2 separate regions of the Homo sapiens genome follow, and region 1 is linked to region 2. A link means that fine-mapping ties the variant in region 2 to the expression of a gene that starts in the linked region. Tissue or cell type: lung. Region 2 holds a variant in brackets; the other region holds the start of a gene. All regions are shown on one strand. Distances are from middle to middle. Region 1 holds the start of CNTN6 (contactin 6). Region 2 overlaps CNTN6 (contactin 6).

Region 1 (16,819 bases), 150 kb before region 2:
CTAAGTCTGTTACCCTTAAGTCATTGCAGGGAATTTGGCTGACACAATTCAGAATCTGACTTTGTTACTGATTGGACTTAAAGAAGGTCATGAGTAGATCTGAGTGGTTCAAAGGAGGAACTATATTCTATGCCTTGTTTTTCTGCATCATTTCAAATATTCTCATCCTGACCAAACATTCAAGCTAATGCTTCATTCAGCCTAACATAAATATTACCTGACAGTGATCCATTTCTCACAATTCTCATTTCCCATCCAGCAGTTTCTCTGATACTGAGTACTCACACAAAGCTGACTCTTACTCATATAGGTATGTACTCTAGATGTGTAGAAGAGTTAATATCCCACAGGACAAACTTTGACCAATATGTGGGGTGGCCACACAGTCTCACTGGCTCAGGATTGATTTCAGCTATACCAGTTTTTTCAGTTACTATTATTAATACTTTCTCCTTTCACTCTGGTTATTGTCCTGTTTTACATAATGGGGTATATGGTCACCTTGTTACTAAGGTATCGGAGCCAATAGATAGATGCTTCTTCCATGCTTAATTCAGGTGGAAAGCCCTGAGAGGCATTTGATACACTTTAAAGATGTCTCTATACTATTGAACACGTATTCCTATATGGTGTTGAAAAACTCAATACATCCTTTTATTGGCTTTTCCTTGCTCCATTTTTAACTCACACTGTGATTACTGTTTTCTGAGATCACGTTTTGAAATGAGTGGCTAACGTGACAAAAGGCAAAAACTCTTTGACTGAAGCTCCGCTCTTGGGAGAACCCAGACTAAGTCAGCTTGGTTTCAATAAGTGATAATATTGTATCGACTAGTTATGGTTCCATAGAAAATCATTTCAAAATTCAGTGGCTTAAGACAAGAAGAATTGATTTCTCTCCCATGTATACAAGATGGATGAGGGTAAGGTCATCTAGGCTGTGCTTAGTTGGGCAGCTCTGATGTTTACTGAGATCTTTGGATCAACAGGAATAGCTCTGTTCCAAGTACTTTTCATCCTCCATGGATTGCAGTTTAGCCAAAGTGAGTTTTTCTATGGTAATAGCAGAGGTAACAAGAAGGTAAGAAGAAACACAAACGACAATTAAAGCCTAGGCTTATAGCCAGCACGTTGTGACTTCTAGTCACATGTTATTGGTCAAAGCAAGTCACATGTTTAAGCCCCAAATCAAGGGGCAGAGAAGTATACTCCATCTATGATCAGGCAATGGCAAGAGTGTATGTGCAGGGAAAGGTGAGGAATTGAGACTAATAAATCAATCTACCATATGATTATAAAAGAAATATCAGTATATTTCCTGTGAAAGAAAAGCCTATGACGTATTTCTGGTAATGATGCTAGTAGGCCAATAGGTAAATTCTATTTAATGGGAACTAATGACTCTCATGTTTTCTATGTCTAAACATCAAAGAAACACAACACAACAATTTTTACACTTCATAAATTACAAACAAACAAAAATGGAGGAGACAGAAAAGTTATTTAAGAGACTACACTCTTGATGCATAGTAAGATTTTAGAGGGTATGGCTTCTGACCTCTTCATTATGCCTGGGAAATAAGATACAGTAATAATTATTACATGTGGAACATCTCTCAATCTTCAGAGTTGAAAAAAATTAGAGTAGAAGAGGAATAGCATTAATGAAATACATTTATTTTCACTGGGGCCCAAGCAATGTATTCTATAATTTAGAAAGATCACAATGGGCTTTATGGTAAAAAATACCTCTAAAATAATAAGCCTTGCAGAGCAATTGGCACTCATTAAAATTCAGTGTTGGAAGCAGCAGGTGGCAGGCAGTTTCATGGAACAATTTTGCAGTGTCCTTCCAGGGTTGAAGCAAAACAATTCATGTCATAAGATACCAGGTCTTACCCAGTCCCCATTTTAAGTTGCCGTAAGTAACAGTTCCTCTATTTTTATATGAATAGATTCAAGGATCTTAAATTGAATGTATTACAATAGCTTTCTAAAATATACATTTTCCTACCATGTGGTAGAAGGTGAATATATGCATTTCACTTACTATTTTCCCTTTGAAAAGGAATACGTTTCACGGCAAAATGTTGTTACTTGTTTTTCCAGAGGGAAGTGAAATTTGAATATCTGTAAAATTACACATATGTGGTATAAGTGAAAAAAATTGTTTTGGGGGCAAAAGACTAAGGAAATTGTTATCACCCTCCCTTCAATGCACTTTTTCCTGAGGGAAAGTAAACGTTGATATGTGCAGTGGATTTCTCTTCATGACACTCTAATCCCTACCACTCCCTCACCAAAAAGGAAAAGAAAAGGCAAGAGAAAAAAAAATGATTTCCATTTCCTGGGACCATTTAATATTTTCTATTCTTTACCAAAGCACCGTGGAGGTTTGAGACAAATAATTACATTCAGACCATTTTCATGAAAACAAGCAGTTCTTTGAAGAATGTCGGACTTAACTATCTAATTAATTGTTAAATCTTGGCAGTTATAGCCTAAAACGTTACATATTTAAGAGAAACTTTTTACTATACCTTCAACACTAGAAATAACCATAAAATTATAGCACTTATTTTCGCCTTCTATTTGATATACCAATGGACATAGCAGGGGACTCTTGACAAGAGGTTTAGAATACAAATGCTGGGGTTAGGTGGACTTGGATTCACATCCCCGTTTATCTTTTTACCGTTGTGTGATCTTGGCAAAAACCTCAATTGCTAGTCAAAGGTGATAGGAATATCTGCCTCATAGGGTTGTTACCAGGACTAAGTGAGATTTTGGATTTGGTGTCTAGCTCACAGGAAGCACTCAGAAGATTATAGAAGATTATTCATATTTTGGTAATATTAGAAGTGTCTGTGGTGAATAGAAGAAAAGTATGTTATAGAAAATATTTTTTTAAACAATGGTTATTTAGAAAAGTTGTACATACCAATGGGCATAACAAACAAACCAAAGCAATAAATAACACCGAGACAATATTACTCATGTTGGTATATGACAGATCTTTAAAATAATTGTGCATGTTCAATAAATTATTATGTGTTAATCTTTGCTTTTAATTTATTTGGAGAAAAAACTGTCATTACAGGTTTCTTCACAACAAGGCAATTATTTAAGAGCAATAGTCAATAATATTTTCCTGTAGGAGGCAGAAGTAGATCAGGGTTTTGTGGAGCCTGAAGTTTATAGCATTTTGAATGCCCACTTCAAGAGTTGGCAGTGAAGAGCAACCCAAGTATTTCACTGGAAAGTATCAGGAAAAGTACAGACATTGGATTTTTCCCCCTCTTTGGTAAGGAGAGAAGAGGAAATAGCAGCTATAGGAAGAGGCTCCCCTTGGGGCCTTGAGGGATTAAAAAAAAAAAAAAAAAAAAAAAGGCAGTGCTTCCTGGTTCACTGAAGTGGATTTTACTGGCAAAGAAACTTTGCCACAGCATTCCTTCAGAGAAATTCTACTTGTGAGCTTCTGCCTAATGTCGGCGTCCGCCAAGTGATGCAATTCCACTGGAATGTGTGCAACTGAACTGTTGGGATCAATGCCTTTGCAAACCTCAGAAGGAAAACATATATTCAGTACAAATGTTAGCTGCTACACTAAATACAAATGGGACAAGCTACCCTATAAAAAGACAACGCCAATTTTTTTTCAGTCAAGCTGAATGATGTTTATAAGAAAGGCATCTAAAACAGTGAGAAAAAGTGTTAATATTCTAGTATATACAGGAAAACAAAAACCAGAAAGAAAGGAGAAATGCTGAAAATAATTCATGTCAAGGAGATGTAAACATATTTAAAAGGATTCTTAAGATGTTATATAATCATAAAAACAAAATCCACTAGAGATATTTATATATGTAGTGTGTATATGTGTGTGTGTGTTTGTGTGTGTGTGTGTAGCCTTTATCGATGAAACAGTTTAGCAGCAGAATATATAGTACAAAGCTTCTTGAAAGATAATTGCTCCATTTGAAAAATATTTCTGGGAAATATTTAAGATACCGCTCACAGAACTTGACATGTCAAGTAGACAAAATGTGAGAAAGAGTATAGCGATTTGAATAATAAAACAATATTAGTCTAGATTCTTGAGTCAAGCTGCTTAGGTTTTATTCTTCCCCCACTGTCACCCAGTTGGATGTTCTTGGGCAATTTAGTTAAACTTTTTATGTTCCAATTTTCTTGTTGGTTAGATTTTGCAAATAATATCAAACCCATCAGGTTGTTATAAGGATTGAATAAATTGCTAATGCCAATGTAATGCTGAAGACACTACCTGACACATAATTTGAGTTATAGAAGTTGCCTATCAATATGTTCATCATCGTCTTCATCATTGTCCAGAAAAAATATAAATGAATAAAACTAACTCAGATCTATAAGAAACTAAAATGTCTAAACATAAATTGAGATTAGAGAGGTGATTGTTTCACTAAAATCAATAATAATAATAATGTACACAACAATATTTTGGTAGAATGATAGACTTATTGATTTTATTTTTTCAAAGCCTTTAAGAGAATCTACAGTCTGTCATCATTTAATTCATTAAAAATCAACTTTATTGAGGTATACTTTACATGAAATGACATATACCCATTTGTCTAGGTTGATAAGATTTGTCCAATACATATACCCTTGTAATCACTGCCACAATCAAAAACAGAATGTTTTTATTACCCGAAACATTCCCTGTTGCCCATTTGCAATTTATCTCTTTCTCCTTATCCCTAAACAAACATTCTGTTTTCTGTCAGTATAGAATTGCTTTTTTTTTTTTGATATCTTTCTCTTAGCATAATAGCTGTGGAATTAATCCAAGTTGTGAATATCAGTAATTTCTGGCTTTTTATTGCTAACTTGTATTACAATTATGCATTCACCACAATTTGTTTATCCATTAACCTGTTGATGGACATCAGTGTTGTTTCCAACTTTTGGCTGTTATAAAAAAAATTTGCTATAAAATTTCCTTGCAAAAATTTCTGTGGACATATGCTTTCATTTCTTTTGGGTGAATACATAAGAGCGGGGTTTCTCAGTAATATTACTTTAAGAGTGCCAGCTTGTTTTACGAAGTAATTGTAGCACTTTATATTTCTACCAGCAAGGTATGAGTTCCAATTGTCCCACATACTCAAAATCTTTTGGAATTTTCAATGTTTTTATTTTATTTTATTTTATTATTATTATCATTATTATTTTGAGATGGTGCTCACTCTGTTGTCCAGGCTGGTGCACAGTGGCACAAACACGGCTTACCACAGCCTCCATCTCCCGGGCTCAGGTGATGCTCCCACCTTAACCTCCTGACTAGCTAGGACTACAGGCACCTGTCACCACGCCTGGCTAATTTTTTGTATTTGTTGTAGAGATGGGGTTTCACCATGTTGCCCAGGTTGGTCTCAAGCTCCTGGGCTTCAGCTGTCTGCCCACCGTGTCCTCCCAAAATGCTAGCATTACAGCTGTGAGCCACCAGTCCCAGACTGAATTTTCAGTGGTTTTCATTTGAGCCTGTTTGATTAGTGTCTAGTAGCTGTGTCTTGCGGTTTTGATTGGCATTTTTAAAATAATGATGTTGAGCATCATTTTAATGGGCTTAAATGTCATTTGGATATCTTTGCTAAAAATGTTCATTTTTTTTTCATTTTCTAATGGGTTGCTTATTTTTTTGTTATTGAGGTGTAAAAATTTCTTAATGATATATTTCAAAAATCAGTCTTTTTAAATTTAATGAAGTCCAATATTTCTATTTATTCTTTATGTTCTGTGTTTTTATGTGTGTGTATGCACATGAGTTTTAAGAAATCTTTGCTTAATCCTAGGACTCATACATTTTCTTTCAGAAGTTTTTTTTTTTTTCAACTTTTATTTTAAGTTCGGGGTACATGTGCAGGATACGCAGGTTTTACGTAGGTAAACGAGTGCCATGGTGGTTTACTGCACAGATCATCACATCACCTGGGTATTAAGCCCAACATTCATTAGCTATTCTTCCTGATACTCTCCCTCCTCCCACCCGCCACGATGGGTACCAAGATGTGTGTTGTTCCCCCTCCATGTGTCCATGTGTTCTCATCATGCAGCTCCCACTTATAAGTGAGAATATGTGGTGTTTGGTTTTCTTCCAGAAAATTTAATGCTGTACCTTTAAGTGTGTGACCTATTTCACGTTAGCTTTTTGTGTGTGGTACGAGGTAAGGATTAAGGTTAACTTTTTTACAAATGAATATTCATTTGTTCAAGCACCATTTCTTGAATTATGATGCCTTTATCATTGAATTACCTGATAACTCTGTCTAAAATCCATTCACCTAAAATCGGCACATATCCATTAGCACAATATCCATTGAATTACCTGATACCTTTGTCTAAAATCCACTGTATATGTGCTGATCTGTTTTTGAACACTTAATTATGTTTTGTTGACCTATCCTGCCAACATCACACCGTCTTTATCGCTCTATTACTAGTAGTAAATTGTAAAAATCACAGGATATGTCTGCCAACTTTGTTTATCATTCGATTTTACTTTCTTGGTTAATTTTATTGCTACATAAATTTTAGCCTCATTTGATGATTGCTACAAGAAAATCTCCTGATATTTTCACTGAGATTATTTTAAAGCTAAAAACCTATTGGGAGATAATTGACTTCTTAAAAATATTGAGTGTTTTTGACCCATGAATGTGGCATATTTCTTTACTTATTTAGGTCTTAATTAATTTTCCTTAGTAATTCTGTGTAGCCTGTAGTGTACAGACCTTGTTTTAGATCCTTGATACCCACACCTCCTCCCCCAGTGTTTAAAAATTAATAAAATGAGAAGATATCAGCAAAGGGATCTGAGAAGGAGCAGGTAGTAAACGAGAAGAAAATTTAAGAAATTAAGCAAAAGCAATGCTTAAAGGAGGAGTACTTGGTAAACTGTATTACTTGTGAGTGATACATCAAGTAAAATTAGGACTAAGTTGACCATTGCATTATTCTATGCGTAATTTAATATTGACTATGACCAGAAACACTTATGTGGAACAGTGGGGACAAAAGACTAATCAAAGCAGATTCAAGATAAAATGAGAAAAGATGAATGGAGACAGTAAGTACAGAGAATTCCTTCAAGGTGTTTTACTATAAACAGAAGCAAGGAAATGCAGTAGTAGACAGAGGAAGACGGTATGTTAAAGGGGTGCTGATTTTTAAAATGGGCCAACTAGCAGCAAATCTCTTTGTTGTGATGCTACAGAAGGTAGGGAGAGTTGATGATTCCACAGAGAGAGACAAGTGGGTAGAATGGTCCCTTGAGTAGAAGACTATCTAAAGCACAGGTGGATGGCTTGGTCTAAGGAGGGAGCACGGTTCACCTCAAGTAACAAGATGAAGGGAGAGTCTGTGGTCACAGGGGCCAAGTATGTGACTAGATGTAGTGACAGGAGCTTATTGAAGTTTTCTTCTGGTTCTTATTCCTTTTTGGGTAAAATAGAAAGCAAAGCAATCAGCTGTCCTTGAATATGAGTCAGACTGTTGGAGATTTGAGTAAAGGGATATTCTTTAAGCTTGAATGAATTTCTTTCCACAAAAAAAAAATAAAGCCTACTACATAATGATTATTTTTCTTAAAACTCTGCAGAAAAAGTCATCTTGGCATTTTTACAAATAAAATATATTTTTATTCCTACAGAGCAAGAAATACTTCTATTTTTTTTAAAAAAAAAAAAAAGAGGCAATAAAAACAGATATTCTTTCTATAAAATTATTAGTCTAGTTTGCCTTCTTATGAATTGGGAGAAACAATAGGGTAGCCCATTTTGAGTTTACCTTGTGTTAGGAAGCATCATCTCCTTTCTAAAGCCTCTTATAATGTTGGTTAGACCCTGTGAAGAAATCCATAGGACATAGTCATAAAATGTAGTCATAGAAACCTTCTTGCTCATCAGATGAAAGTAAACTGAGGCCAAGAAATATCTTTTGACTTATTTCCATTTGATTTGGGGATTTCATTTTCTCAGTATCCACTTACTTTAAGATGCTAAGAGTATAATTTCTTTGTATGCCAACATGAAAATAAGTCCAAACTATCATTCTTTTCTCATGTTATAGTTATGTTTGTATGCACTAGAGTCTCAGTGTGCATGTATGTGTAATTCCTATTCCTTAGTTTTCATCCTTCAAGCAGTTAGTCCCTTCAAAACCCGATGACAAGACCCAAACATATTAAAAAGTTTAGTTGGAGGGCCCAGGGTGAAACACAAAAACAATTCTTCTTCTTACAGAGCTCTTAGGCAAACACATAGACACTTGTTCTCTGCCTCTGGAATTACAAATATGTTACTCGGAAAGCAGCAATACTCTTTTGGACTTGTTTGACTTCACTTTCTTTACCTGTCTTTAAGAAGCCTCATACACACATTTAAAAAATACAACTTATAAAGGTTTTAGTGATAGTGCATACAATCATTTGATTTTATTTCCCTTTTCTCTTCACCTTCACTAATAGGAGTTACTGGCATGCTTCAAAAAGCTTACATTTGAATACTGTCTAAATCAGTGCAGACCCTTGACCAGCTTAATCTTTGCTTGCAAATGACAATGCAGTGAAACCAGAGGAAGAAAAAAATTACTTCCTTTCCTGTTGGAAACCTAATAAGTAGTTAGTCTGACCCAGTTTTCAATAAGAGAGATTTTCTGATGACCCGACAGGAGTGACTATCTCCAGTCAAAGAAAGAGGAGGGTGAATTTAATCTTTCATGGCCCTGGAATGGCAGCTGCTCTCAGCTCTCTCTGATTCTGTGAAGGTTGATGAAGATAGAGCTGGCTTTCAATGTAGAAAGAATTTTCCTTTTGAATATTCCAAACGAGAGCTTTGCACATGTGCCTCAAGAACTGATTGTCTGGCTCCGACAGGAATGCAGCAGGAGAGGAGCGTATTTCATGCTTAAGACCAGAGAAGAGCCACGCAATACTCAGTGGATAAAAGGCTTGCAGTCCCAGCTGGGAAAAAGAGTCCCATTATCTCCCAGCTGCATAGACATTCCATACGGCTTGGTTCTGCCTGGACGCACAGCATGCCTGGCTGAGAGCTTGAAACAGAGTTCTGCAGAAAAACTGTAAAGATCCCGAGACATTTCCCTGGTAAGATCTGTAAGTACAAAATTGTGCTGTGTCTGCTGCAATGAGAATATTGCTGGGCAAGCTGCAGCTTTTCTTCCTTTCAATGTCTTTGTATTAGCATAACAGGTAAAAGCTGGGGTTGGGGGAGAAGTCACTGCTTTATTGATGCTGTGTTTCTATGATGCTGATGTTTAAAATGCATTTATTCCTTGTGTGGGAGAAATGTATTGAATCTGTATTCCGGGAGGTTAGGATCAAACCAGGGAAAGAAAGACTACAGGTATATTTCTCAGTGTTTCACTAGTCTTTGCTGCAGTAAAACTAATGGGCAAGACGGGATGACAGTGCTAATTCTGGGACTTTCAGATGGCTACACGCCCTTTCTGTAACGGCAGATGGGAAAATGTGATCGCTAAATGTTTTTTGTCTTTTTTTTTTTTTTAATCAAAGGGATGAGGGGTGGGGTTTGCAGTTCTCACCGGATGATTTAAAAGAATGGTTATAAAGTTTCCTAGGGGAGAATTTGGTAAGGGGAGCAAAGCAAGACTGGAGGTCATATGGGCTCACCAAATTTTGTCTGGCATTTTGCTTTATACCCAGCTTCTAGATAACAGCCTCTGGAGTTTCCTTTACCATTTACACCAGTTAAGTTGTCAGTATTAAGGTTCTTATAATACTTTATGAAAACTTTCAGAAGTTGATGACTTGGGAACAAAACTTTTAAGAGCTCTGAGATTAGCCACGTATAACCCATTATGTTAATGGGATACTGTAACATTGGGGTTTGGGGGGAAAATTGGAATTCATAGTTTTTGCTTCTCCAAATGAAAACTACTTATGTTTAAATAATCAGCATCCTGACTATGTCCTCTGAGAAACATTCACAGAATGACTAAATAGAAGTTATACTGAGAAAAAATAGAGTGAACAGTAGAATCACACAGAATCAATTTGGAAAATGAGGTATTCATAATTTTATCTACAGTGGCAATGTTTTCTGAAGATGTCTGTAAAAGAAGAAGCATATGCTGAATATTGAATTGCTTGTTTTGAGCAATTTTCATTTATCTGATGGGTTTATCATCTTTTTATTTTTGTTGTTGAAGGTTTCACCAATTTATGTGCATTGTATTTTATAAGGAAAGAAATGTTTAAGCAGACTCTTTTTCCCTCCTCCTTCACACACATGTGTAAACATACGCATGTTCACAAAACAAACATAAACATACAAAAATACTTACACAATTTGTGTAAAAAAAAAGAAATACAGAAGCATTTCATCTTTGATGTTTCAGTGGGGTTTCTTTTTCTTTTTTTAAGCAATAATCATGGCTGTGCAGTCCAAAGATTTCAAATATATAAATGTGGAAACTTTTATATAAAGCTTTATGTGAGGTTATATAAATGCATAACTTATCACATCTTAGCAAAAAAGTCAATCATTTATAAATGACTTCATTGCATTACTTCCTTTGAATATTTGTAGTGAAGGACCAGAATTTTTTTTTAGAATTTTTATGTAGCTTTCCTTAATGAAAACAAATTCACTTGTTTACTTAGAAAAGGATCACATATTTTCTCTGAGTTTAGAACCCCCTCTAAAAAAAATCAATTATGTTGTGAAAAGGATGTGTGGTATATTAAATTGATTGCATACTTCTGGGTTTTTTTTTTAGTAAGTAAAAATGCTCAGTAGTATAATAGTAAATTTGTACCTTTTAAATTCTTTTATGTGAGGAGAAGGAATACAAAATATTTGCTTATTTATTCACTGTTTATTTTAATAACATATTAATTGGAATGCAGAAGTATAAGTTCTACCTATTAAAAATGACTCAAACTATACATAAAAGTTCAAAAGGGAAAACCCATCACCTGTAAATAACAATCATGAAATTTGGCGACTATCATTGGAGACATACTGGTGCCTAAATTCAGATAAGATGAGAGATAAATACTTTTGTAAGAATGGTTTCTTACTATACACCTTTTAAAAAATAAATAATAAATATTTAGATAATATAGTCAATAATAGATACTCTTCTGTAAGAATGAGATCTTATCCTACACTTAAAAAAAAACAGAAATATTGGCCGCGCGCGGTGGTTCACACCTATAATCCCAGCACTTTGGGAGGCCGAGGCGGGCGGATCACGAGGTCAAGAGATTGAGACCATCCTGGCCAACATGGTGAAACCCCATTTCTACTAAAAATACAAAAATTAGCTGGGCGTTTTGGCGTGTGCCTGTAGTCACAGCTACTCAGGAAGCTGAGGCAGGAGAATCACTTGACCCCGGGAGGCGGAGCTTGCAGTGAGCAGAGATCGCGCCATTGCCCTCCAGCCTGGGTGACAGAGTGAAACTCCATCTCAAACAAACAAACAAACAAACAGAAAACAGAAAACAGAAACATTGAGTTTAATTTTTGATTTTAGATTTTAATTAAACTGAAAAAAGAGAAGTTGAAACAACATTGAAGAAATTGTTAAATTTCATGTATAGATTTCTCTCCAATGGAGATATTATGTCCAGAATAATACCCTTACAGTTAAGACCAAAAATTTTGAAAATAGAAATAGTTTGAAGATTTTTTTGGATGCACGTTTAAATAGTAAACAAACTTTTATAACCCTTGTTATGATAGTTAAATGCATTTGCAATGTGACTTGTCATCAACTCCACCCATACCACCTCAATTTAAACTACATCAGTTTTACATTACTGAGTACATACATTCTGGCTGAATTCCCATGGTCTCAGTTTAAACTTATTTCAAATTTGTAAGGAATTATCCTTTATCAACAGGCTTTTACTACCCAATTCACCATTTCTGTGTTCTTTATTTTCAATTATTTTTTGGGTTGTTAGATTTCAGTAAGTAGTACCTCTCCACCAAAGAAATAGTCATAGGTGCTATATTTTCTATGAGTTTGCATCTTGAACATGTATTTCTTTTGCCTTAGACATGCAAGATACGTTATCTTTCTTGGATCAAGCTTAATTTTTTCTTTTGGAAATGTGTAAATGTTTAAACATTTTTGGAGACCCTTCCTGTACTGAAAGTTGTTTTGCAACATTTTTAGGTCTGTCTGCAATTTCCGTCATTGAATGTGACTTGCTTTTTTTCTGATAAATGCCTACATGATTCTTTTGTTGTGTGTGTGTGTGTGAGTGTGTGTATGGGTGTTTGCTTTTACAGAATATTCCTGGATTTGTTCCATTTTCATTAACTTTTTTTGAGGTTTGCCCCATTAATTTAAGATTCTTTTATTTTAGGATTTGTTGTACTATTTCTTTTTTGTCCCTTAACTGGGCGTGGCCAAATTGTGGTTATCTTGCTTCTTTCTTTTCTTCAGGATCACCAATTTTGTACATGTTGTATCTCATTTGTCTACTTTCCACATCTTTCATATCCAAATTTCTTTTCAATTTTAATTGACAAATTGGTTATCTTCTTTATTTGAGAACCACTTGTTCTCTTGTTTGCCACTTGAATGAATAGTATAGCTTGCAATAAACCTATTAAGGCACAACCTTCTGTATTGTGATCTTGTAAATACATGTTTCCTTCTCTTAACACTCTAGCAATTTCCTCAGCTGGCAGGTTTTTGGGCAATCTGTATCCTCCTGAAAGTAAGAGAAAAAGAAAGTACTGATCGGTTTTCTCTGATGTCCCCCAAAGGTCCATGATTTTTAGTATTTGGCTACAGTGGAAATGGGCTTCAAGTCGTGTTTTGGGGTTTTGTCCACTAACATTTTCACTGAAGACGGAGGGTTTTTGCTTCGTTTTTTATCTGCACCACGACCACTGCCACCTTTTATATTTCTCTTTATTGTTTCTGTGGGACAATAGAGGACATTTAAAAATCTCTTTATTTAAGGAGTTTTAAATAGCAATCTTTCAGTTTGGAGGAATTCTTTGAATGAAAATTTTATTAGAATGTTGTTATTCTCAGTATTCATATTGAAAAGAGCTGTTCTAGTTAAGACTGAGTTCATCTGCATGATGTGTTGTAGTATTAAACATTTATTACGGTAAAGGCGTAACACAGGACATAGTAGAGGAAAAACAGAGCCATTGGGCATGCCTTCTGATAATGTCCCCTATTAGTTTATATTGATGAAGTCTGTGGCCTACTTAACTATTTTGCAATGAGTCCTAAGGTAATTTACAGAAACGTTACATCATAGTAACATGAATCAAAATCTGTAGACTCAAATCCTTTTTGAAAGTATACTGAGTAGAAAACTTATATGTATTAGGTTTACAATTAAATGAATAAATGAATGAATAAATAACTGAATTTCCCTATATTTCAAATCCTTAAAAGAGGCAATAAAAGAACATGATGTGTCGTATGAAGTATTATAAAAAACGAATGATCTTACTAAAAAGCAAATAGCAATTTCTCAGTGTCAATAAAATGATAGTGAGAGCAAGATTCAGGAGGCAAGCTCTTGAGCTGAAGTGCCGCCCATTGTAGATTTCCTTCCCTATATCTAGCACAGAATAGCTCTGTGGTCTTAGGCAAGTTTCTTAGCCTCTTTGTACTTCAGTTTCCCCATTCATAGTGGAGATAATATTAGTATTGACTTTACAGTATTTTCAAGAGAATTCAGCAGGTAAATATGTAAAAAATCTTGGAAGAAAGCCTGGCAATTAAGAAGCACTCTATGTGTTAGTTGTTTAGTTATTGTTATATTATTATTGCTATTATAACATTTATATATGAGCCTTAGGATCAATTGGGTAAAAATAATATAAAACAATGAAAAGACTAAAATTATAATTATCATCTAATCAATTGTATTGGGTATTTAATAGAGAATTAAATTTGGAGTGTAAATCATAAGTGGATATTAAAATAGAGCTCAGGAAAAATGGTGAGAAGATATAGAGATGCTGGTCTCTGGATCCAACTAGATTAAAAATAGAAATGGTATTTCTGTATACACCAAGCAATTGGACATGATCAAGAAAAAGGGTATATTTGCGGGGGGGGGAGGGATAGCATTGGGAGATATACCTAATGCTAGATGACGAGTTAGTGGGTGCAGTGCACCAGCATGTCACATGTATACATATGTAACTAACCTGCACATTGTGCACATGTACCCTAAAACTTAAAGTATAATAATACTAATAATAAAATAAAAATAAAAAAAAGAGAAAGGGTATATTTGATTTTTTGATTATAAAAGCAATGAACAGAAAAGCACGAGAACAAATAAGCCAGAATTTCTTTCTTCAAAGAAAAACATCACAAATACTTGTACATTTCTTTCCTGTTGTTTTATGTTGTTGTTGTTCTTTTTTTATGATAATGCCTTAATCAAGTAATGTATGCACCTGGAAACAACAACAATAAAATTTGAAATTATAGAGAAAACAATAAAATAAAAAATAAAGACCTTTCCATGATTTCCTGTCTTATTTCACAGAGATATTTTCTATAGTTTATTTTATTGTAATGTTTTCCTTCTGGCCACCATTATACATTTGAATAATATATTTGACTTCTATTGCAGAATCTATAAACTCAACATCATGTCTGCTGACTCCATTTTTTTAAAGATGGGCAGTTTTTCCTATTTTCACACTTTCACAAGACAATTTTAGGTGTTACATAAGTCTTTGAATTCTTTTGGCAGTAATGCACACACACACACACACACACACACACACACACATATATATATATATATATATATATATATAGTGGGAAATTTTAAGTATTCAGGTAAGGATTAAATTTAATAATGACCAATTCCCACCCCCAGAATTACCAAATGCTAAATTTTATTGGAGATTTAACATCTTCAGTATTCATAAAATGAAAATACTAATACAATATATAATAAGGGCCTACGTTGTAACTCTACCTAGTCCATTCCTCATTCTACATTACCATGAATTGTATATTTACATATAATTGTTATATATGTATGCCTATATAAAATATTATTTTAAAATATTATGGAAATAGTATATTGAAAGCAAACTTATTTAACTTGTGTAACTCATTCCATATTAGACTATTTAGACTCATTCTTATAAATAAACACATTTCGCCGGGCTCAGTGGCTCACGCCTGTAATCCCAGCACTTTGGGAGGCCGAGGCGGGCGGATCACGAGGTCAGGAGATCGAGACCATCCTGGCTAACACGGTGAAACCCCGTCTCTACCAAAAATACAAAAAATTAGCAGGGTGTGGTGGCGGGCGCCTGTAGTCCCAGCTACTGGGGAGGCTGAGGCGGGAGAATGGCGGGAACCCGGGGGGCGGAGCTTGCAGTGAGCCGAGATTGAGCCATTACACTCCAGCCTGGGTGACAGAGCCAGACTCTGTCTCAAAAAATTAATTAATTAATTTAAATAAATAAATACAGTTCTAGGATATATTTCACCTTATGTGTTTTATATTCTTATTATTCATTCCCTTATTGAGGGATATTTAATTTATTGAAAATATTCACTATTGCAGTGTTCTATTATCACATACATTGAAAACTTATACACATTAAGTGAGATTTTCATTAAGAATATCAAGTCCGTGCTGCATGTCAACAATTTCATGTTTGTTATTTCTGGTCTCAGAATTCCTATGTTTCAACAAATGTACTTAATTCATCCGCACCTACTATGATGTTGATGAAGTTGGACTTATTTCTTACTTCTTACTTCATATTCAACCAAAGTGTTTTTTAGTAAACAGTCTTTTATTGGTTTGAGGAAATATTCTTTATTCATTTTTTCAACTTTTATTAGTTAAAAATGGTATACTCCCTTTATCGTATTTTAGTAAATAACTATTTTAACATAAAATGTACTTTTATATTTTCAAATAAAGACTAAAGATAGTGTATATATCTTCTTCATAAACAGGACAATGACTTGTTTAAATTTACTCTGAGATATTTCTCCCAGTGCTCATATTTGCACTATTTATTTTTAAACTGCCCCCAATATTTTTGTCAAGGTTTTTTTAGACTTATGACGTGATTTCCTGAGTTCTTTATTTACCATATTCTTGCTATTTATGTGCATCTCCTAGATTCTCTTCTTGTGCTCTGAAGACCATTTTAAGGTCATTCAAAAATTGTTTTAAACTCCCTTAAAATTTATTTGTTGAAAATCGCTTATGTTAGTCACATTCTAAAATAATACTGTAGTTCATCAGAGCACTCTATGTGGAAGATACTTTTCTCTCAACAATTTTTGCATATTCTGTTCCATGATCTTCTGGAATATAATTTTGCTCATGAGGGGACTGTTTATGATGTAATTATCACACTTTTGAATAAATATTCGTCTTTTCACTCGGACAGATTTTAAGAATTTCTCTTTGTCATTGATTTCTTCAAGTTCACTGCAATGTATGTAGTTGTGGAGTTGTTTCAAATTTATCTCATTTAGGCCTCTGCAAGCTCCTAAATCTTTCTTCCATTCTGAAAAATTCTCAGCTATTATATATTTCAATCTTGCGTCTTTTAAATCCCTTTATTTTCTCCTTCAGGAATGCTCATTCATTATTTCTAGGCTTCTGTCTTTGATTTCTTTGCATTTCTTTCATTTTCTAGTGTTGCAGTCAGTGTAATTTCTACCAATCTGTATTTTATACTTTTATTTTTTAAAAAACAGTTTTAATTTCTATAATTTATATTGCTCTTTTAAAAATTATCCTGCTATTCTGCTTGTT
Region 2 (16,819 bases):
AGCCTGAGGCTCACTGATATTGGGGCTTTCTTAAAGTATGTTGTTAGAGAAAAGTTGGAACTTGTGTATAGACAAAGAAGACTTCAGACTCTAAAACTCATGCACTTCATGTCACAGTATTGAGTCCTTCTCAAACACTGACCACACAGTTCATGTGGGCCTTCTTTCTTTGTTTCACTTGCTGGCACAGTAATTGTCTAAATAATAAACTGTATCTTCAGGACAGAATGGGTCAAATAAGCCTGGTAGTAGAGGCTGGTGATTCCTTGTCCACATCCGCTTTTGCAAGTGATGTGCCAACCCCCAGCTATGAATACCCACAGATATCCCTTTTTGCATTTCATGCCCCAAACCTCTCCATGGGATCAGGCTGAAACCAGACAACAGCTGCAACACCTTAATTAGCTTCTTCACTTGCTGTTTCCTTCTTCCCTCCCTGCCTTTCTCCTAAGAGGATATCCTCAATAAATCATATGCACTTGAATCCTTGCCTCAGGCTCTGCTTCTAAGGAATCCAAAGCGAGACAGAGATTAAACATTTAATATGAGATTGCCGATCTACTTACTGACAGAAAAAAGCGGGTGCAGAAGCCCCACTCCCATGAACTCCCATAGATAAGAACAAGCTATGCATCAGAATAAAAATGGATCAACTCCCTTGCTTCCTGTCCGTTGGCAGTCCATTGTAAAATGTCACTTTGACCTTCAGAATGAATGGCCTTATGAACAACCTTTCAGAATCTACCCTGTCCATGGCAGAAACGCTGCAGGGACATACCTCTAGATAATTGATGGCTTTTGTTTGTCACTTTTATCCTGGTATTCAGTAATCCAAAAGCACACTTTGAGTTTATTTTAGACACAGACTGTAACACTCTGCTTCATTATGAATCGTCTCATCATGAAACCATCCTGAAATGTGGCCTGTATATAAAAACTACCTGTTGTGAAACATACTCCTAAATCAAATCTGTCTTTAACCAACTATGTAACTTAGACAAGTCATTCAGTTCTCTGGATTTAGCTAAAGTATATTTTGAATTATTTGATTACAAAAGTCTCTTTCAGCTATTGTCATATAATCTGTCCTTCCAAATACTCAGGTAGATCCTATTTTAAGTATCTCTTTCTTCCCCAACCCAAACTCTACCCTAAAACAAATTCAGCAGGAGTCTAGTCACCAAAGGCTTCTGTTATCATCCTGGCATTCTTGAATGATAAAACTAGTTTGACTTCCAAAATCACTTGTAGCTGCTTTCAATTTCTTTTATTTATCAAAGCTTTTGGTGGTAAAGGTTGAACTTAGACCTCTTCCTTTTGTATGTATGTATGTTAATGAATTACTCTGTACTTGTGTGAGAGAACATTGCATCTGTCATTGCTGTTTAAAATGTCATCCTTGAGAAAATGAGATAGGTGTTTTGAAAGAAACCCATGATATCACTCAGATGTAATTTTTAAATGCCCTTATAATATATAACTCTACCAATGAAAAGATAAACATTTATGATAAAAGGTAGTCATGAATGGGGCTTTTTGATCCTACATTATTTAATGTGTAATCACAGCTAGCATTTCAAATAAGTTTGCTCCATTATTGCAAAAGGAAAGGCAGCTGGGCTGGAGCCTCCTAATTGACCCTTCATTTATTCATCCTCCAAGCAACCGGAGAACACCTAATTTATACCCATCAAGTACTACACTAGGTCCTAAAGATTAAATGGTAGATAAGAAACAGCTACTTCCTGTCTCAACAGAACAGACAGGGGAAACCTTTAATAAAATTAAAAATAAGAAAAGGAAAATAAAGGAAAGTGCTAACGCCTACAAAGTATTATGTGGCAGGCATTGTTCCAAACTCTTTATGTAAATTAGCTCCATTGATCCTCACAATAACCCTCTGAGAGTATCATGATCTTCACTTTCAGATAAGCAGATTGAGGCACAGAAGAATGAACTAGCCTGCCTAAAATCACACACCGTATGTGGGAGAGTCTGTTTTCAAATCCAGACAGAGTGAAGAGTCCTACCACCTACTGCACTGTCCCAAAACATCAAGTGAAGTGAGAAAGGTGAAATTGACCTATAACAGAGTGGAGCTCAAAGTGAGAAGTAGTGAAGTTTGTCTGAATTGGAGAAAAGGCAAGGGAAGCCTTTCAAAGGAAATGGGGCTTGCATTGAACCTTGACATGTTAGTTTGTATTCTGGACAGAGAAAGTGGTAGAGAAAGTACAGGTCGGAAGAACAGTAAGAGGAAATGCAGATGTGTGAACAATCTTCAAGTATCGAAGAAAGTGTGGGGAGGTGGGCAAAAGACCTGAGAACTGAAATGCAGAAAGCTAGGGATCAGAAATGACTGGTTTTCTAGGTTGAGACTGAAAACTAATTTGGAGCCACTTATAAGTAGTCCTTTATATCCGGGCCTAATCTGCAAACAATAGGATAATTTAGAGATATTATGAGATGCCAAAGAAACATGCAAAAATCCATCATAGTACAATATTCCACACTCAGTATGACACTGTGTACGGTGTTAATTTATGGTTAAATGCCAGTATTGCCCATTTCATATAGGGTTACTATGAGGACCAAATATATTATGTGGAAAGCAGAGGGCAAGGGCAACTGATAGACTGGTATGAGTTGAAGATGGTGAGCTAGGCAGGGGTCTGGCCATACAAATACTAAGAGGCCAAGTTTTGTATTTTACTGCTTATCCTAAGAGCAATGGAACCGTTCTGAATAATGTTAAGGATGTTGAAGTTGTTTATAAAATGTAGTTTGAAGCCAGGCGCGGTGGCTCACGCCTGTAATCCCAGCACTTTGGGAGGCCGAGGCGGGCGGATCACAAGGTCAGGAGTTTGAGACCAGCCTGGCCAACATAGTGAAACCACGTCTCTATAAAAAATACAAAAAATTAGCCGGGTGTGGTGGTGTGCACCTGTAATCCCAGCTACTCGGGAGGCTGAGGCAGGAGAATCGCGTGAACCCGGGAGGCAGAGGTTGCAGTGAGCTGAGATCGTGCCAGTACACTCCAGTCTGGGCAACAGAACGAGACTCTGTCTCAAAAAAAAAAAAAAAAAAAAAAAAGTAGTTTGAAATACCACATACTATTTCCTTAAATATGTTAGTCTGACATATTAATGATATTATTAATATTATCAAAACCATAGCACACATACTTAGGGGGCATCCCAAACCTCAGTTTTTATCATATACAATGGAGTGAACGAATTCTTGCACCACATCACAGGATTGATTTTAAATGGTTCAAGGTTAAAATGCAGTAAGAATGCATTTTAAAGGGCTATAAACATGTAGGCATTTACAATCATCATAGTTTTTTCCAGAGGAATGCAAAGGGTTTTACACCTGCCATGCCATTCATCTTTATTCTATACCTGTAAGCTATTCTTAACCATGTTTTACAGGTGAAGACATTAAAAGGCAGGACAACTATGTTACTTGCCCAAGGTCAACTAACCTACAGCAGACCCAGAATTTCTAACATTTCCTTCTTGAAACAACTTTTTAAATTTATATTTATTTTGTAGACAGAGGAAGTAAATCAGAATTCTCATGAATTTAATGCCATATTCAAAGAAAAACAAAAAAGGTAAAGTCGTAACATAAAGGTCTTTGACTCCTTGCAGAAGGATTCTAAGATATTTGTGTATTTAAAGGTGATAAATATTTTTATTTCTATCTTTTGACCAGGGTCTTATAAGCAAGAACAAAAACCCTCACATTTAGAAATAAATTTTAAGAGTTTCCAAATTTCTTTAAAATTCTTTCATATATAAGAAATATAAAAGCAGTTATATGTGCTCCCGATGATATGGTGATAAAGTGCATTTATATCAGAAAAAGAAATTAAGACCCAGCAGAAGAAGCTTTAAAAATAACACTTAAAAATGCTTTTGGAAATTGTAAAGTCTCCGATAATTGCGAAGTGCGTATTAAGTGGGTAATGCATACCTAATTATAAATGAAAATGCTAAATGGCTTTTAACCTTTTTTCTACATCAGAAAAGAACTAACTGAACAAAAGCCATGAAGAAATATTTTTTCTTTAATTTCTTAAATTAAAAAAGTTGGTAAATTAGTATTGATTTTTTCAGTATCATTTGCAAATAGCATAAGCAATGTTACAATGGATTTAATATTCTCAATTTGTCTTAATGAAATAACAGCATAACCACCAATTGTTATCATATCAAGGAGAAAACTTTGTCTTTGCTTTTAAAAATAATTCAGATCTTAAACAAATAGACTGTAAGCAGTTGCGTGGTTAAATTATAGCAAGCCACTGTTATATTTATATTTAAAATCAACAGGGAAGTAGATTATTCAATGCTTTAGCCTCATTTTTTCCCACACTATCGCTGCTGGAAATCTATTTATGTGTCTTATCAGAAATGGTACTTTTTCAAAATTCAGGCCTTCTCCCACTGCCTACTTCTACTTATATTCAGCAGGAGCTAGTCTTTTTAGTTCATTTGAATAAAATTGTGCAGGCTAAGAGTTGGGATGGGAGAGGAAAATATAAGAAAGTAGGGGATCCATTCTATCAAAACTGGGAGTTTCTGATTTACAAAACTGAGACAGATGCACAAGCTGAAATGCTTGTTTATTACTCATGTTATTTGACAAACTGTTTCAAGGAATTTATGAACATAGCACATAGAGATTTTGCTTCTAAGATTTATAAAATTGGTTCAAATTACAGTGACATTTTTTGCATTAAAGGATCAAATATTTCTATTGTTTATTTATATATAAATAAATATATAATACATATAAAGAGCATTTATAAGTAATAATGTGTATATAATTATCTGAATTTATATCCAATATTGTCTAAAAAGTAAATCAGATTCAGGTGTTTAAATAGCAAATACAGGAGAGAAGATGGCGGATAAGCAGCAAGACTAGCTTGCAGCTCCTGCTGGGAGGGATAGAGCAGCATGTGGAGACTCACATCATACTTTGCCCCAGAAACTACCCCAGGAACATACCAGGAAAGCCGAGAGAATCCACAAACCCTTTGAAAGAACTGGATCACCGCTGCAGGCTCCCTGAGATGCAGAAAAACTGTGAGTCGGCTTGCTTTCTCAATAGGGAGGCTGGTGGTCTGGGGCAGGTTCTCAGCCCTGGTCACTAGCTGTCTGGAAATAGACTCAGTGCTGCTGGGGGCGGGTGGGGCATGGTGGGAGTGAGACTGGCCTTTAGGACTCACGCTGTGTGGGGGTGGGGTGAGGCCTGTGACTGCGTTTTCCCTCACTTCCCTGGTGAACTGTATGACTCAGCAGAGGCAGCCATAATCCCCCTGGGAATATAACTCCATCGGACTGGGAACTGTACCCCCATCCCTCACAGCAGCTGCAGCAAGCCCCACCCAAGGAGAGGCTGAGCTCAGACACACCTTATCCCTATCCCAGTCTGGTGGTCTTTCTCTATGTGTCCTGGTAGCCAAAGACAAAAGTCATAATGTCTTGAAAGCTCTATCGCCCTGCCCACCACCTGAGAAACCTGAATACTTTTGCATCCTCCGTATAGGACCACAGCTGATGCACTCCCGAAGCGCCATCTCCTGACTGGAGGCCAACCAACACAAAACCAGCGCTAAACAAAAACGCAACCAAGGACCCTCACAGAGTTCACTTCACTCCCCTACTACCTCCACCAGAGCAGGTGGTGGTATCCACAGCTGCAAGACCTAAAGATGGATCACATTACAGGACTCTGCAGACACTCCTCAGTATCAATCAGAGCCTGGTAGCTCCACTGGGTGCCAGATCCAGAAAAGCAAAGCAATCACTACAGTTCAGTTCTCAGGAAGCCCCATTCCTAGGGGAAGCGGGAGAACACCGAAACAAGGGAGCACCCCATGGGACAAAAGACTCTGAAGAGCAGCCCTTGAATCCCAGATATTCCCTCTGACATAATGTACCCGAATGAGAAGAAACCAGAGAGACAATAATGATAATATGACAAAATAAGGTTCTTCAACTCCCCCAAAAGATTATGCCAGCTCACCTGCAATGGATCCAAGCCAAGATGAAACTTCTGAATTGCCAGGAAAATAATTCAGAAGGTTAATTATTAAGCTAATCAAGAAGGCACCAGAGACCAGGCGCGGTGGCTCACGCCTGTAATCCCAGCACTTTGGGAGGCTGAGGCGGGTGGATCACAAGGTCAGGAGATCAAGACCATCCTGGCTAACATGGTGAAACCCTGTCTCTACTAAAAAATACATAAAATTAGCCAAGCGTGGTGGTGGGCGCCTGTAGTGCCAGCTACTTGGAAGGCTGAGGTAGGAGAATGGCGTGAACCTGGGAGGCAGAGCTTGCAGTGAGCTGTGATCACGCCACTGCACTCCAGCCTGGGCAACAGTGCGAGACTCTGTTTCAAAAAGAAAAAAAAAGAAGCCACCAAAAAAAGGTGAAGTCCAGCTTAAAGAAATTAAAAACATTATACAGAAAATTAAAGGAAAATTCTTCAGTGAAATAGATAGTATAAATAAAAAACAATCACAAGTTCTGGAAATCTAGGACACAGAGTAATGTAAAATGCATTGGAAAGTCTAAGCAATAGAATCAAACAAGCAGAAGAAAGAACTTCAGAGCTCTAAGACAAGGCTTTCAAATTAACCCAGTCCATCAAAGACAAACAATAATAATAATAATAATTCTTAAAAAATGAGCAAAGCTTCCAAGAAGTTTGAGACTACATTAAATACCCAAACCTAAGAATAATTGGTGTTCCCGAGGAAGAAGAGAAATCTAACAATTTGGAAAATATGTCTGAGAGAATAATCCAGGAAAACTTCCTCAGCTTTGCTAGAGATCTAGACATCCAAATACAAGAAGCTCAAAGAACATATGGGAAATTCATCACAAAAAGATAATCACCTAGGCATATAGTCATTAGGTTATCTAAAGTTGAGACAAAGGAAAGACTCTTAATAGCTATGAGACAAAAGCATCAGGTAACCTATAAAGGAAAACCTATCAGATTAACAGAAGATTTCTTAGCAGGAACCCTACAAGCTAAAAGGGATTGGGATTCTATTTTTAGCCTCCTTAAACAAAACAACTATTAGTCAAGAATTTTGTATCCAGTTAAAGTAAGCTTCATAAATGAAGGAAAGACACAGTCTTTTCCAGACAAATAAATGCTGGGAGAATTTGCCACTACCAAGCCAACACAAGAACAGCTAAAAAGAGCTCTAAATCTGAAACAAATCTTCAAAATACACAAAAATAGAACCTCCTTGAAGCACACATCTCACAGAACCTATATAACAATAACACAATGTTTAAAAAAAAAGAAAAGAAAACAGAAAACAAAACAAAAAAAAACCACAAGGTATTCAGGCAACAAAATAGCACGGTGAATAGAATAGTACCTCACATCTCAATACTAACATAGAAAGTGAATGGCCTAAATGCTTCACTTAAAAAATACGGAATGGCAGAATAAACGAGAATTCTCCAATAAAGTCTCTGCTGTCTTCACGAGACTCAACTAACACAGAAGAACTCAAATTTACTTATAGTAAAGGGGTGGAAAAAGATATTCCGTGCAAATGGACACCAAAAGCAAGCAGGAGTAGCTATTCTTCTATCAGACAAAACATACTTCAAAGCAACAGCAGTTTAAACAAACAAAGAGGGACATTATATAATGATAAAAGGATTAGTCCAACAGGAAAATATCACAGTTCTAAATATATATGCACCTAACACTGGTGCTCCCAAATTTATAAAACAATTACTACTATACCTAAGAAATGAGATAGATGGCAACACAATAATAGTGGAGGACTTTAACACTCCACTGACAGCACTAGACAAGTCATCAAGACAGAAAGTCAACAAAGAAACAATGGACTTAAACTATATTCTAGAACAAATGAACTTAACAGATATTTACAGAAAATTCTATCCAACAACTGCAGAATACACATTCTATTCATCAGCACATGGAACATTCTCCAACATAGACCATACGATAGGCCACAAAATAAGTCTCAGGAAATTTAAGAAAATCGAAATTATATCAAGTACTCTCTCAGACCACAGTGAAATAAAATTGGAAATCAACTCCAAAAGGATCCTTCAAAACCAGGCAAATACATGGAAATTAAATAATCTGCTCCTGAATGATCAAACAAAAAGCTGCCTCTTTGAAAAGATAAATAAAATTGATAGACTGTTAGTGAGATTAACCAAGAAAAGAAGAGAGAAGATCCAAATAAACTCTATTAGAAATGAAGCGGGAGATATTACAACTGATATCACAGAAATACAAAAGATTATTGAAGGCTACTATGAACACCTTCACATGCATAAACTAGAAAACCTAGAGGAGATGGATAAATTCCTGGAAATATACAACTCTCCTAGATTAAACCAGTAAGATATAGAACTGGAACAAGATAGGGATGCCCACTTTCACTCCTTCTATTCAACATAGTACTGGAAGTCCTAGCCAGAGCATTCAGAAAAGAGAAAGAAATAAAGCGTGTCCAAATTGATAAAAAAGAAGTCAAACTGTCTCTGTTTGCTGACGTTACGATTGTATACCTAAAAAGCCCTAAAGATTCATCCAAAAATCTTCTGGAACTGGTAAATGAATTCACCAAAGTTTCCAGATACAAAATTAAAGTACACAAATCGGTAGCTCTGCTGCCTACCAACAGTGACCAAGCTGAAAATCAAATCAAGAACTCCACCCCTTTCACAATATCTGCAAAAACAAACAAACAAACACTTAGGAATATATCTAATCAAGGATGTGAAAGACCTCTACAAGGAAAACTATGAAACACTGCTGAAAGAAATCATAGATGACACAAACAAATAGAAACACATCCCATGCTCATGGTTGGGGAGAATCAATATTGTGAAAATGACCACACTGCCAAAAGCAATCTACAAAGTCAGTGCAATTCCCATCAAGATAGCACCATCATTCTTCTCAGAACTAGCAAAAACAATCCTAAAATTTACATGGAACCAAAAAAGAGCCCACACAGCCAAAGCAAGACTAAGCAAAAAGAACACACTGGGAGGCATCACGTTACCTGACTTCACCTTTTTCTCTGAGGCCATAGTCACCAAAGCAACATGGTACTGTTACAAAAATAGGCACATAGACCAATGGAACAGAATAGAGAACCCAGAAATAAAGCCAAAAACTTGCAGTCAACTGATCCTCAACAAAGCAAACAAAAATATGCAGTGTGGAAAGGACATCCTATTCAACAAATGGTGCTGGGATCATTGAAAAGCCCAGTGTAGAAGAATGAAACTGGATCCTCATCTCTCACCTTAAAAAAAATCAACTCAAGATATATCAAAGACTAAATATAAGACCTGAAACCATAAAGATAATGGAAAATAACATTGGAACAACACTTCCAGACATTGGCTTAGGCAAAGATTTCATGACCAAGAACACAAAGCAAACACAACAAAAACAAAGATAAATACATGGGACTTAATTAAACTAAAAAGCTTCTGCACAGCCAAAGAAATAATCATGAGAGTTTACAGACAACCCACAGAGTGGGAAAAGATCTTCACAATCTATTTATCCAACGAATGACTGATATCGAGAATCTACAAGGAACTCAAACAAATCAGCAAGAAAAAAACAAACAATCCCATTAAAAAGTGGGCTAAGGACATGAATAGACAATTCTCAAAGAAGATATACAAATGGCAAGCAAGCACAAATGGGAAAATGCTTAACATTGCCAATTATCAGAAAAATGTAAATCAAAACCACAATGCAATACGACCTCCCTCCTGCAAGAATTGCCATAATCAAAAACTCAAAAAATAATAGACATTGGCATGGATGTGGTGAAAAGGGAACAGTTTTACACTGTTGGTGGGAATGTAAACTAGTACAATCACTATGGAAAACAGTGTTGGAGATTCCTTAAAGGACTAAAAGTAGATCTACCGTTTGATCCAGCAATCCCACTACTTGGTGTCTACCCAGAGGAAAAGAAGTTATTATACTAAAAAAAAAAAAAGAAAAAAAAGAAAAAAATTTCATGTGTGTCCGTGTGAAGAGACCACCAAACAGACTTTGTGTGAGCAACATGGCTGTTTATTTCACATGGGTGAAATAAACCCATGCACCTTCACGTGGGTGCAGGCGGGCTGAGTCTGAAAAGAGAGTCAGTGAAGGGAGATAGGGGTGGGGCTGTTTTATAGGATTTGGGAAGGTGATGGAAAATTACAGTCAAAGGGGGTTGTTCTCTGGTGGGCATGGGTGGATCTCACAAAGTACATTCTCAAGGGTGGGGAGAATTACAAAGAACCTTCTTAAGGGTGGGGGAGACTACAAAGTACCTTCTTAAGGGTGGGGGAGATTACAAAGTACATTGATCAGTTAGGATGGGGCAGGAACAAATCACAATGGTGGAATG[T/C]CATCAGTTAAGGCTGTTTTTACTTCTTTTGTGGATCTTCAGTTACTTCAGGCCATCTGGATGTATACGTGCAAGTTACAGGGGATGCGATGGCCTGGCCTGGGCTCAGAGGCCTGACATTCCTGCCTTCTTATATTAATAAGACAAATAAAACAAAATAGTGTTGAAGTGTTGGGGTGGTGAAAATTTTTGGGGGTGGTATGGAGAGAGAACGGGCGATGTTTCTCAGGGCTGCTTCAAGCGGGATTAGGGGCAGTGTGGGAACCTAGAGTGGGAGAGACTAAGCTGAAGGGAGGTCTTGTGGTGAGGGGTGATATTGTGCGGATGTTAGAAGAAACATTTGTCGTATAGAATGATTGGTGATGGCCTGGATATGGTTTTGGATGAATTGAGAAGCTAAACGGAAGATACAAGGTCCGAATTAAAAGGAGGAGAAAAATGGGTATTAAAGGACTAAGAATTGGGAGGACCCAGGACATCCAATTAGAGAGTGCCCAAGGGGGTTCAGCATAATTACTTGCTTGGTTGGCAAGTTTTTGGGCTCTATCCTTGAGTTTTTTTATGTTGTCATACACCAGGCCAGATTGATTTAGGTAAAAACAACACTCCTCATTTAAGAATATGCAGAGTCCTCCTTTTTCAGCAGTAAGTCAGTCAAGGCCTCGGCGGTTTTGGAGGACAACTGCAGCTAAAGAGTCAACTTGGGCCTGGAGGACTGATAAAGTTTGTGATTTTGAAGGCCTCTAAAAGTATTAAAGCAGCAGCAGCCGCTGCACGCAGACATGAGGGCTAGGCTAAAACAGTAAGGTCAAGTTGTTTGGACAGAAAGGCTACAGGGTGTGGTCCTGGCTCTTGTGTAAGAATTCCGACCATGCTAACCATGCCTAGGAAGGAAAGGAGTTGTTGTTTTGTAGAAGGTGCTGGGGTTTGAGAGATCAGTCGGACACGATTGGCAGGGAAAGCACGTGTGTTTTTATGAGAATTATGCTGAGATAGGTAACAGATGAGGAAGAAATTTGGGCTTGATTGAAGTAATGGGGGCTGTCTGTGAAGCTTTGCAGCAGTACAGCCTTGGTAATTTGCTGAGCCTAATGGGTGTCAGGGTCAGTCTAAGTGAAAGCAAAGAGAGGCTGGGACGAGGGGTGCAGGGGAATAGTGAAAAAAGCATCTTTAAGATGGAGAACAGAATAGTGAGTTGTGGAGGAATGGATTGAGGACAAAAGAGTGTAGGGGTTGGGCACCACAGGGTGGATGGCAAAACAATTTGGTTGATAAGGCGCAGATCCTGAACTAATCTGTAAGACTTGTCCGGTTTTTGGACAGGTAAAATGGGGGAATTGTAAGGAGAGTTTATAGGTTTTAGAAGCCCATGCTGTAGCAGGCAAGTGATAACAGGCTTTAATCCTTTGAAAGCGTGCTGTGGGATGGGATATGGGCGTTGAGCGGGGTAAGGGTGATTAGATTTTAACGGGATGGTAATGGGCATGTGATCAGTTGCCAGGGAAGGAGTAGAGATGTCCCATACTTGTGGGTTAAGGTGGGGGGATATGAGAGGAAGACGCGAAGGAGGCTTTGGGTTGGGGAGAAGGGCGGCAATGAGACACAGCTGTAATCCAGGAATAGTCAGGGAAGCAGATAATTTGGTTAAAATATCTCGGCCTAATAAGGGAACTGGGCAGGTGGGGATAACTAAAAAAGAGTCCATAAAAGAGTGCTGTCCAAGTTGGTACCAGAGTGGGGGAGTTTTCAGGGGTTTTGAAGCCTGGCCGTCAATACCCACAACAGTTATGGAGGCAAGGGAAACAGGCCCTTGAAAAGAAGGTAATGTGGAGTGGGTAGCCTCCGTATTGATTAAGAAGGGGACGGACTTACCTTCCACTGTGAGAGTTACCCAAAGCTCGGCGTCCGTGATGGTCTACGGGGCTTCCAAGGCAATCAGGCAGCGTCAGTCTTCAGCTGCTAAGCCGAGAAGATCTGGGAAGGAGTCAGTCAGAGAGCCTTGGGCCAGAGTTCCAGGGGCTCTGGGAGTGGCTGCCAGGTGAGTTGAACAGTCCGATTTTCAGTGGGTTCCTGCACAGATGGGACGCGGCTTACGAGGAATCCTGAGCTGCGGGCATTCCTTGGCCTGGTGGCCAGATTTCTGGCACTTGTAGCAAGCTCCTGGGGAAGGAGGTTCTGGGGGAACGCCTGGCTGCTGCGGTTCAGGTGTTTGGAAGTTCTTGTGTGCTGGAGATGTGGCTGGGGTTTGTGTCACAGTGGAGGCAAGGAATTGCAACTTTTTTCTATTATTGTACACCTTGAAGACGAGGTTAATTAAATCCTGTTGTGGGGTTTGAGGGCCGGAATTTAATTTTTGGAGTTTTATTTAATGTCGGGAGCAGATTGCGTAATAAAATGTATTTTGAGAATAAGACGGCCTTTTGACCTTTTAGGGTCTAGGGCTGTAAAGTGGCTCAGGGTTGCTGCCGAGCGAGCCATGAACTGGGCTGGATTTTTATATTTGATGAAAAAGAGCCTAAACGCTATCTGATTTGGGATAAAGAAAAAGAAGCATTAACCTTGACTATGCCTTTGGCTCCAGCCACCTTTTAAAGAGTAAATTGCTCGGCAGGTGGGGAAGAGCTAGTCACAGAACGAAACTGTAAGCCAGACCGGGTGTGAGGAGGGGAGGCTGAGGAAGTATTGGGACTTAGCTGGGTCTGGCAATGAGCAGCTTGGGGAGGACGGGAAAGGTCAGATGGGTCTGTAGAAAAGGAAGACTGGGAAGACTCAGCGATGCTTGGGGTTGGGACCAAGGGGACAGGCGGGAGGGAAAGAAGGAGGATCTGGGAGGAATCGCATTGGGAACAGAGGCTAGGGAGGGAACGAAGTGTGAAAAATGCCTGGACGTAAGGCACCTCAGACCATTTGCCCATTTTTCGACAAAAATTATTTAGGTCTTGTAGGATGGAGAAATCGAACGTGCCGTTTTCTGGCCATTTAGAGCCATTGTCAAGTTTGTACTGGGGCCAAGCGGTGTTGCAGAAGAAAATAAGGTGTTTAGGTTTTAGGTCAGGTGTGTGTTGAAGAGGTTTTAAGTTCTTGAGCACACAGGCTAAGGGAGAAGAAGGAGGAATGGAGGGTGGAAGGTGGCCCATAGTGAAGGAAGCAAACCCAGAGAAAAGAGAGCGTAGAGACACGGAGGGAAGGGGTTTGGGGGTTCTTGCCTCCTAGAAAAGTGGGACTTGCCGCTGAGGGTGAAGGAGAAGGGGTTGAGGGGTACTTGGCCCTGCCCCAGGAAAGCGGGACTTGCCGCTGAGGGTGAAGGAGAAGGGGTTGAGGGGTACTTGGCCCTGCCCCAGGAAAGCGGGACTTGCCGCTGAGGGTGAAGGAGAAGGGGTTGAGGGGTACTTGGCCCTGCCCCAGGAAAGTGGAGAAGAGGTAGAGAGGTAGGAACAAAGAGCAGGAGGACGGGGGATTGATCTCCCAAGGGATGTCCCCCGATCCGAGTCACAGCACCAAATTTCATGCGTGTCTGTGTGAAGAGACCGCCAAACAGGCTTTGTGTGAGCAATAAAGCTGTTTATTTCACCTGGGTGCAGGTGGGCTGAGTCCGAAAAGAGAGTCAGCGAAGGGAGATAGGGGTGGGGCTGTTTTATAGGATTTGGGAAGGTGATGGAAAATTACAGTCAAAGGGGGTTGTTCTCTGGTGGGCAGGGGTGGATCTCACAAAGTACATTCTCAAGGGTGGGGAGAATTACAAAGAACCTTCTTAAGGGTGGGGGAGACTACAAAGTACCTTCTTAAGGGTGGGGGAGATTACAAAGTACATTGATCAGTTAGGATGGGGCAGGAACAAATCACAATGGTGGAATGTCATCAGTTAAGGCTGTTTTTACTTCTTTTGTGGATCTTCAGTTACTTCAGGCCATCTGGATGTATACGTGCAAGTTACAGGGGATGCGATGGCCTGGTCTGGGCTCAGAGGCCTGACAAAAAATCTTTGCACACACGTGTTTATATTAGCACAATTTGCAATAGCAAAATATGGAAACCAACCCAAATGCCCATCAATCAACAAGTAGGGTAAAGAAAATGTGATATATATATATATATATATATATATATATATATATATACACACACACATATATATATAACATATATATATATATATACACACACATATATATATAACATATATATATATATATATATATATATATATATATATATATAGCATGGAATACTACTCAGCCATAAAAAGGAATGAAATAATGGCATTCACAGCAACCTAGATGGAATTGGAGACTATTATTGTAAGTGAAGTAACTCAGGAATGGAAAATCAAACATCATACGTTCTTATTCATATGTGGGAGCTAAGCTATGTGTACACAAAGCATAAGAATGATACAATGGATTTTGGGGATTGGGGGAAAGGGTGGGGGTTGGTGAGGGATAAAAGATTACATATTGGGTACAGTGTACGTGGCTCAGGTGACGGGTACGCCAAAATCTCAGAAATCACCACTAAAAAGCTTATTCATGTAACCAAACACCACCTGTTTCCCAAAAACCTATTGAAATAAAAAAAGGAATATAAATAAATAAATAACATTATTGGAACAATAAGAAAGCCAAAAACAAACAAATAAACAGCAAATACAAATAATAAAGAGTTTTGATGGAAATCCATTGAAATGTTAATTATGTTTTAAAGCAGGAGTGTCCAATCTTTTGGCTTCCCTGGGCTACAGTGGAAGAAGAATTGTCTTGGGCCACATATAAAATACACAAATTTTTAGCTGATGAGCTAAAAAAAAAATTGCAAAAAAATCTCATAACGTTTTAAGAAAATGTATGAATTTTTGTTGGGCCACATTCAAAGCCATCCTGGGTTGCATGCAGCCTGAGGGCTGTAGGTTGGACAAGCTTGTTTTAAGGTATTAATTTATGCTCTTCTTTTCCCTAGAAGTATAATATATACAGAAAAGTACAAAAAACATGAGCAGATAGATCAATGAAGTATTGTTAAGCCAGATCCAGGAATAGATATTTCCAACACCCCCAGAAGGTCCGCCCATTATATCCCCTTCTAGTTATGACATCCTCCTTCTGCCTCAAAGATGAGCCATATCTTGACTTGTGAATTTGTAATTATTATTGCTTTTTAATTTTATATGAATAAAATCATGCAATATATAATATATTGCTTCAAGTCTGGCTTATTAGCCAACTATGTTTCTGAGATCCTTTTATATTGTTGTAGGTAGCTGTAGTTCATTTTTCTGATCACATATAATATTTTATTGTATGAATATAATGCAGTTTATGTGGAACTTTTACTGTTATTGGAAAATTGTATTATTTCTAAGTGCATTCTTCTATGATTATTCTTGCACATATCTTTTGGGAGATCTGTGTAAATATTTCTCTGTTGTATATACCAGAAATCAGAATTATCGGGAAATTGGGCATGCATATGACAATTTTAAAAGATAACACCAAATTGTTGTCTATAGTGATTTTATTAATTTGTACTCTTTCCAGTAATGTTTTTTTCTATATTCTTGACAATATTTGATATGATCAGTCTTTTTAAAAATTTTAGCCTTTTGCAGGGGGATAGTAAAAAGTATCTCATTTTGGTTTAGCTTCTGTTTCCTGATCACTAATGAAATTGGGCACTTTTTAAAATTATTATTGGCTATTTGGAAACCTCCCTCCCTCCCCTTGGTTTCTAGGAATAACTTAATTCATTTTTCCATATTTTAATTGTGTTGTCTTTGTTTTCATTAGTGATTGATTCTAGAGAAGAGCACAATGTTGCTTTTTTGTGTAGGAAACCGCTTCTACTGTGTCGCTTGCCTTTTCACTCTCTTAATCATGTCTTTTGATAAACAGAAAAATTTAAATTTAACATAGTTCAATCTATTGGTCTTTTTCTTTTTGAGATGTTTTTTGTAAAAAGTTTAAGAACTGTTTTCCTTCCTTGCGATCATATTTTCCTGTTATCTTCTATAGTGTATTTTGTCCTTCGTATTTAAATTATAATGCACCTGCATTTTATTTATTTATTCATTTATTTTCATGGTGTAAAATTGGTTCAATATACAATTTTTTTCTATAGGGATCCAATTGAGCCAGAACATATATGAAAGATGCAGTCCTTTCTTTGCTGTTCTACAGTGCCATTCCTAAAGGGAATTAAATCTGCATGCCTGCTTGAGCCTGCTATTGACCTCTTTTTTCTCTCTTCCTTTGTTGTATTTGTAAATGCCATATTCTAGTAATTACTGCAGTCTTACAATAAGTCTTAATATCTGATAGCTATTAAAATAGACTATATGGTTTAAAAAAAAAAGAGGCTTGAATTGTAAGTGAAACC

The links. PIP is the estimated chance that this variant, and not a neighbour inherited with it, causes the effect.
Region 1: it holds the start of CNTN6, and the variant in region 2 is fine-mapped to the expression of CNTN6 in lung (TOPMed, PIP above 0.99).

What each region holds. Positions count from the first base shown.
Region 1 is chr3:1,083,979-1,100,797 of GRCh38, forward strand. CNTN6 (contactin 6) reads left to right here and starts at 9,046. Exons shown (of 23, transcript NM_001289080.2): 1 at 9,046-9,142.
Region 2 is chr3:1,230,669-1,247,487 of GRCh38, forward strand. The region is part of intron 4 of CNTN6 (contactin 6); the gene reads left to right. Among named protein-coding and RNA genes, the nearest start is that of CNTN6, 150 kb to the left of the region's middle. RefSeq lists an enhancer at 4,833-6,032. The variant T/C (reference allele first, on the strand shown) is at 10,451.